Linked DNA regions of Homo sapiens. The protein of the gene in region 1 purifies or fractionates together with the protein of each later gene. This does not show direct contact. Each region holds a gene or a part of one and is shown on either strand. Other genes may lie near its edges. The genes, in order: DCDC1 and FAT3.

Evidence for each region.
Region 2: the proteins of DCDC1 (region 1) and FAT3 purify together in Homo sapiens (affinity purification with mass spectrometry; one large-scale study listed by BioGRID and IntAct). This does not show direct contact.

The regions. Positions count from the first base shown.
Region 1 is NC_000011.10:31,306,938-31,310,769, forward strand, and holds part of DCDC1 (doublecortin domain-containing protein 1), read right to left. Parts: intron 972-3,832; coding exon 702-971; intron 1-701. UniProt on the Homo sapiens protein: Microtubule-binding protein which plays an important role in mediating dynein-dependent transport of RAB8A-positive vesicles to the midbody during cytokinesis.
Region 2 is NC_000011.10:92,794,609-92,798,440, reverse strand, and holds part of FAT3 (protocadherin Fat 3 isoform 1 precursor), read right to left. Parts: intron 606-3,832; coding exon 1-605.

The DNA.
Region 1 (3,832 bases):
ATTTCTAAGTTTTGTCTTCAGGCAAAACTAATTTTGATATTTATGATTTTTCTCAGCAAAAGTATGTGGTAAACTGACTAACGTCAAATTTTCTTCATAATTCTCTAACTAACCAAGTTAATTTGTAATGCCACAGAAGAAGAGTAAATATTTTAAAATAAAAATGTCACACAAATTAAAAACACAACATATCCACATATTCAAACATTTGAAAATAGTGGGGTATTAGTTTCTTGGTTTGATTTTTGTTTTTACTAATATTTTCTTCTGTCTATGAACTCTCATGTTAACAGTTTATGATAACAATTTGATGTGAAAACATATTTACAAAATTGTTTTATAATAATTTCATTCAATTCAATTCTGTTTCAAACTATTGGTTAAATATCAAAAGAAAGCATTTTTATTTTTAAATAAGTTCGTGTGAGCAAAGATATTTCATGATCCTAGCCTGATTCTGCTTCAAATATTCTTTTCAGAGTTTCTGATTGCCCGGGTTGAAGTGTATCTCATATTTCCCACAGTGTAATTAACAACATTCTACTCTGGTGCTTTCAAAGAAAAAAACAAAAACAAAAACAAAACCCGAGAGATGTGTTACATTTTAATGTCTGAGATAGTCAATTGAAACATTATAAACTCTGCTCAAAGGAAAGAACTTCAACAATAGGTTAAAAAGAACAGAGAACAGCTTTGATTACCTCAGTTGACCCACTGGAGCACTGACAGGTCTGTTTCTCTTGGATGCTGATATAGAACAAGAATTGTTTTTACTGTTTGATTTGTAGCTATCTAGGTCTGATATTTCATCATGGCTGTGATCTGATGCTGTTTGATGTGTGGAGCAATCTTGAAGTCCTGACCCTTCTGATACTGCTGCTGAATGCACGAGTCTGTTGGGGCCAAACTGAGACTGCAAATAATCATCAGTAGTTTTAATAACTGCTTTTGCCTGGGATGACATAAACTCTCTGGAAGAAACAATGCATGGAAGAATACAATTAATTGATTTGTAATCATTTATTAACAAATACCATATAATAACGAGTTGTGTGCTATGTGCTACACAAAATACTACACACTTAGCCATTATTTTGTTTAATGCCTACAATATTCCTGGGAAGTGGTTATTATTTTTATTCCCATTTTACAGATTTAAGAAATTGAGAATCAGTGAGGTTAATTAACTTGCCCACTGTCACATAATCAATAACTGACAGGATGGGAATTTGAACCCAAGCCTGTCCTGAAATAAAATCCACATTCATAACCATTAAGCTTCATTGCTTTACTTAATTCAACCAAAAGGAAGCTTGCATAATGTTTAAAACAATGTAAGTATAACTTTTAAATTCTTAGATCCACTTTATTTTCTAATACTTACTTAGCACTCTGCTGTTAAAAATATGTGGGTCCTACCCTCAAGAAACTTGCAAACAATCCCCCAATAGAGAATATATGTTAAATAAACTGAAACTGAGTGTGTATTAGCCTTAAAGATGAAAATAATTCATTGAAGGCCATTTTAGAATGGGTGGGAATAAAGTCGGTAAAGGCTTCACAGCAGACCTGAGATTAGCCTAACTCATCTCTGTTCAGGACTATCCTGGTTTTGGCACTGAGGGTCACACATTCCAGGAACTCCCTCAGTCTCAGATAAACTGGGTCAGTTGGTCACCCTACTGGTATTTAGGCTGGAAGAGTAGTATGTGGATGAACTATGATGTGTGAACAGGGAACCACATGACCTGGAAGAATATATTAATCTATATAGACACCAAGTTGGGAAGATGAATAGGTATAGAATATACCGGTATGATAAAATAAAATAAGTTTTAATATATTTGCAAATATTGAGCTGTGTGGTGATCACACATAGAGGATAGTCAGGTTCCATGTATTACCATAATCGGAAGTATCTTTGCACAAACCAAATCTGCTTCTTTCCAATTTGCTCATTCCTCAATAGTTATTGCATAATATAACCCCCCCAAACACACCCCCAATTATAAATTAACATATGTTCAGTGTTGAAAGCTCAGCAGGGATTGCCCCTCCTCCAAATCTTTCACATCCACAAATGTCATTATAATCACAATTATTTCTTCCAGCCTGCCCTCTTTATGGTCACAAACGAGTAAAATGGTCAATTATTTCCTCTGAAAAAATGAATGGTAGTCACACATCAGAGGGAAAATAGATGTTTGTGTGTGTGTGTGTGTGTGTGTGTATGTGTGTGAGCTCACACAGTGGACCCAGGGGAACTACACCTCTGGAATCCAAGCAGTTGTATTCTGCTGTTGTTGTTATCATCACATGTTTCTATCCAAGTCTGCCCTAGACTGAGTACAGTACTGGGGAGAGGAGCAGCCTTCCCTACACATTGGATATAACCAGGCTCAAAACTGTGGCAAACAACGCCTTGAAAGGGTCTTTGGACTAGCTCTGGCAAAAGTGGGACCTCCCTGCAGACCACCTAAGCCACTCAGATTTTGATAACGGTGGTGAGTGACGGCATGTGGCAGCAGTCATTTCAAACTGGCAGTGTTTCTGCAGCAATAGCAATGGAGCTTCACACGGTTACCAAGCTCTTCAACCTGGGGGAAGACCAGTAAACAGCCAGGGGAAAGAATCACAGATTTCATAAACAGTTCCAAGTTTCCAATAAATAGTTACTTGAAGAGCAGATTCCCATATTTTTTTAAAAAAATGGAATTCCCTACTTAAAAGTAGAATAAGGTGTCTTTTTTAATGAATGTATTTTTTTCATTATGAAATATTCTTATAAATATACTAATGATTTTTAACATAACAATCCATTATTCTACCACCACAAGGCAAAAGGTTTTTACTTTTTCATATTCTGAAGTTTTAATCATGTTATATCCTCAATTCTATTGCCTTCTGACTAAATACTGTTTTATAACCATTATTCATGTTGCTCTATGCTCTGTATGGATTTTACTGGAATATAATATTTTATCAACTATATTGATATAGCCCTCTTCTACCTAGTTATGCATGGGCTGTCTATCATTTTTGTTTGTCACACACATCTTCCCCATCTTCTGGTAACAGCACTTGCATTCTTTTGGGAATGCAAACTCTTCCCAACTCCACATGATCCTGATAGGGTTAGGACAAGAGATTATAGATTTACCCAGTGAATGGTAAAAATAATTAAATTTAAATATATGGTTCAACTATATATTTGTTTATTTATTACTTGGTTTTCTCTAGTAATTTATATCTGAAAGTGGGAGAAGGGGTAGTTTTTTATGTTAAAGAGTTAATATTATTGGTCCACTATGAATAGTCTTCAGCTTTGATATGTTTTACAACATTGAGGACAGGTTTTCAGTAATTCTTGATTTTTTTTTTTTTTTTTTTTTTTTTTTTGAGATGGAGTATTGCTCTGTTGCCCAGGCTGGAGTGCAGTGGCGCAATCTCAGCTCACTGCAACATCTGCCTCCCAGGTTCAAGCGATTCTTCTGCCTCAGCTTCCTGAGTAGCTGAGACTACAGGCGCATGCAACCACGCCCAGCTGAATTTTTTGTATTTTTAGTAGAGACGGTGTTTCACCATGTTAGCCAGGATGGTCTCAATCTCCTGACTTCATGATCCTCCCACCTTGGCCTCTCAAAGTGCTGGGATTACACCGCGCCCAGCCTCAGTAGTTCTTACACACTCTCAAACTCATCTTTCTTATAACAATTGATAGGTGTTTCATAGCTTGTTAGGTGTTGGAAAGGATGATTACATACCCTTGCAAAGCCAACTTGTCCCACATGGGAATTAAACCCACATAGTCAGTTTGCTAAACTGGTGCTGG
Region 2 (3,832 bases), about 61 Mb from region 1:
AGCATTCCGGTTGCTGTCAGCATCTGTGGCTCGAATCACCAGTGGGCTGTTATCCAAGCTCCTGACAATGCTATTAATTGGGGCAGCCTCACTTAGGCTGCCTGAGTATTGAGAAAAGAGAAAAACTGGGGCATTATCATTTTCATCAACAATCTGAATATTGACTGTAGCATTGGAAGCCATTCCTGCCATATTGGTGGCCTGAATGATGAGTTGATAAGAGGATGTGCGCTCATAATCCAGGGCCTTCTGAGTGGTGATGACTCCAGAATATGGATTTATGGTAAAGATCCCATTAATGTCTCCATCTTTGACTTCATAAATGAGGGTAGATTGACTGATGGCAGAGATTAGAATGACTGATGTTCCAATGTCAACATTTTCATTTACTTCTGCTTGGTAGTCTTTGTGAATGAACTTGGGGTGAGAATTGTCAGACATGGTGACGGAAATGCGCACAATTGCAGTAGCAGACATTGGCGGGGATCCCTGATCTGTGACTTTGATGGATAGGACAAACTGACCCATCGTCGTCATGTCTGGTTCTTTGCAAATGGTGATGATGCCTAGGACCGGTTCGATCTTAAACATGTTCCCAGTGTTCCCTAAAATACAGAAATCAATGGTGAAATGAGTTACATGTGGGTCACTGAAATCTTTTTGATTAACTCTTTATCTATAGGTACCTTACTGCAATGTGGCAAGTAGAAAGCAATTATAGTACTCATCTGTGTCATTCTGAAATAAAATGAGAGGCTTCTCTTTCAGGGGTACTGAAAAGGAACCAAAATGAGTTTCCCAGTATTATAGTAAATTTCAGATCAGTAACTTCTAGATCCAGGTTAAAAACACAATGACAATGACACAGTCTTATGTGCATTCAAGTTGGGAAATAAGAGAGCCCGAAGGAGAGATCTTTCTGCTAAGAATGTATAGGACTTCCTTATTTCCAGCCTTGTGAGAAGACAGATAGATTGGGAAGCCCACATATGAATGCCACTGGTTTAGGTAGCAGTGTCATATTTTCTGTTCTAGGTTTAAAGAAAGAGGGTTGTGGGAATAGTTTCAGAGCATTATAAAGTAGTCAGTTGTTTTCTGATTATCCCAAAAGCAAACTTCGCTACATGGAATTGGTATTATTTCACCCTATCAAAAATGACTTTATCCAAAACACTACTTTGGTGAAGGGGTTTGTTCAGTCAGGTGTGGAGAATTCTTGGCAAGTCATTATTTGCCTTGTAAGTGTGATGAATTTTCCTGACTTCTCTTCTATTCTCCACTCATGCTCTACCCCTCTCTCATGCTTCTGAACACACACATGCACACATCTAGACATAAAAGTAAACATAAAAAGTTATAGGGCAGTTGCTCAATCTGTAACCATTCTATTCACCAAGCATTTGAGGTGTTTCTAGTGTACCAAGAAACTGTTGGGAATCTGAACCAGCACTGCAACCAAGAACCTGAGACATAATCCTTGTGAAACTGAAACCTGGGCACCCCACTTTGATAGAGCTGGCAGGGGAAGGGCTCTGGCCATGACACTGTAGTAGTTTACAGCTCTGCTTCAGAAACATGTTGTGGTTCGAAATCTGGGATTGTTGAGAATGAGAGAAATAACAGAGGAATAAAAAATGGGGAAGACACAATGTGGAGTATGTAAAGAAGGTAGGTGGTGACAGAGCTGAAAGGCAGTGGGTAGTGTGAAGTTGCATCCCTCACCAAGTTGCTTTTTGCTTCTCTTATCAGGCTTTCTCATACTTCTCAAAGAACACATATACTTCTGTGTTGAGATCCTTTCCAATCAAAAGTTAAAGATCTTGGTTATTCAACTCTATCTGGACTTTTCTTTCTGAGTATTGTAGTATGATAGGTATATAATTTAAATGTTAAAATCATTAAAATAGGGACCAGGATTTTCAGGGCAGTTATGAGATGTGTCTACATACCTCTTCCTACATGCTAATTATATAAAGTTTTCCATGTCTGAACACAAAATGGTCATGTTCATGTAACATCTATTTCAAGAAGATACTTGCTTATTTTAAAAGACAAAGTATATCTAATAAAGAGGTCATTTTGATTCCAGCCCCCCCAAATGTGAATATTAAACAATGTTGTCTTTGATGTCGGCATGATTTATTACTTTGCCACCTAAACATGGCCATTTTGTGATGACAATAATAAAAAGTTCAATGATCTTATGAGTAAACGTTCAAGCTTGCAATGAATAGTGTCATAGAATTGAGTGTGAATCCAACAGGTGATCCACAGAACTTTATAAGGGGAAATCACTTCACCTAAGCAATGGTCACCTTCCAGTGATGGCACCAACATGCAACCCTGACTGATGAATGCTACTGGAGCCAGGGATCTCGGTGTTCACTGATTATGGTGCCCGACTGCAGAGTTTCTAGGTAAGTCCTCCCTCACTCCACACCCGGCAGATTTCTTCATGCCCAGAAAGATAGATTATGGTGGGGATGGCAGGGAGCCAGCTTTTGACCTCAAATATAATTTTTTGTTTTTTTTTGAGATGGAGTCTCGCTCTGTCATCCAGGCTGGAGTGCAGTGGTGCAATCTTGGCTCACTGCAACCTCTGTCTCCTGGGTTCAGGTGATTCTCCTGCCTCAGCCTCCAGAGTAGCTGGGACTGCAGGCAGGCACCACTACACCTGGCTAATTTTCATGTTTGTAGAGACGGGGTTTTGCCACGTTGGTCAGGCTGGTCTCAGACTTCTGACCTCAAGTGATCCACCTGCCTTGGCCTCCAAAAATGCTGGGATTACAGGCACGAGCCACTGTGCCTGGCCTCAAGTAGAAATTCATAATCCTGCTATCCCATGGCCGCTGATCTGCTTGTGACACGCTTCCAGAATGGTGTGCTGATACATCAGGTCCAAAGTGGGCCCTTCTCCTCTTTCCCTCTTTGACACACTGACCCATTCTCTTGGAATCCACTTCCTGCTTATTCTTTCCTGCTACACTTGAATCCTGAAAAATTGGCCTCTGTTTGTTTTTTGGAATCTATGGCCTCTTGTAGATTTTTGGCAATTGAATAAAAGCTGTGCTTTTCTTATCATTCCTTATCTAGTACACAACACAGCATCTGCTACAAAGAAGTTGCTTAATATTTGTTGAATGATTGAGAGGAGAGGTAAATCTAAAAAAAATATTTTAAACTCTCTATTCATATGCATCTTGGGATCCATATGCCCTCACCCGAACTCAACTCAGTCCCAGTCTCTCTTGTACAATCCTGCCTCAGACTCACCATTGACACCAAACACAAAACTCAAACTAGATATAAGACCTGAAGCTCTGCACTCAAATTCTGCCTCAGTCCTTCAGGCCAAAATAAAAAGCTTCCGTAGTTACTTTAGAGGACAGGCAGGAGACAGGAAATTTATAGCCCACCAATAAACAGAGTGAAATCTTGCTTATCTGATGTGTGTGAGAAAAGTTAAATAAAACATAATACTTTACACAGCCATTTGTCATTTGCTTCAAAGTGCTGAAGCATCTGGGATCTGCCTGTCTCCCACCCTCAACTGGGAAGAAACTTGCTCCTCTAGGACCAGTGCGGACCAGTGTGGGTTTGTCTGTCTGTCTGTGAAGAGCCCTGCTGGTCATTTGAGATTTATTGTGAACATTGTAATCCTCAATAGTTTCTTACATACAATCAAAGGTCATTTTTTTTGCGATATCAATTGTTCCCATGGTTTTCTGGAAGTTTGGGTTTTCTTTATGAAAGATGTTTTAAGGAAATAACTGTTCTGTCTTGTTTTAGTCAGTTAAAGAAACGACTGGGCACCATGCTGTAGTCTGTAGAG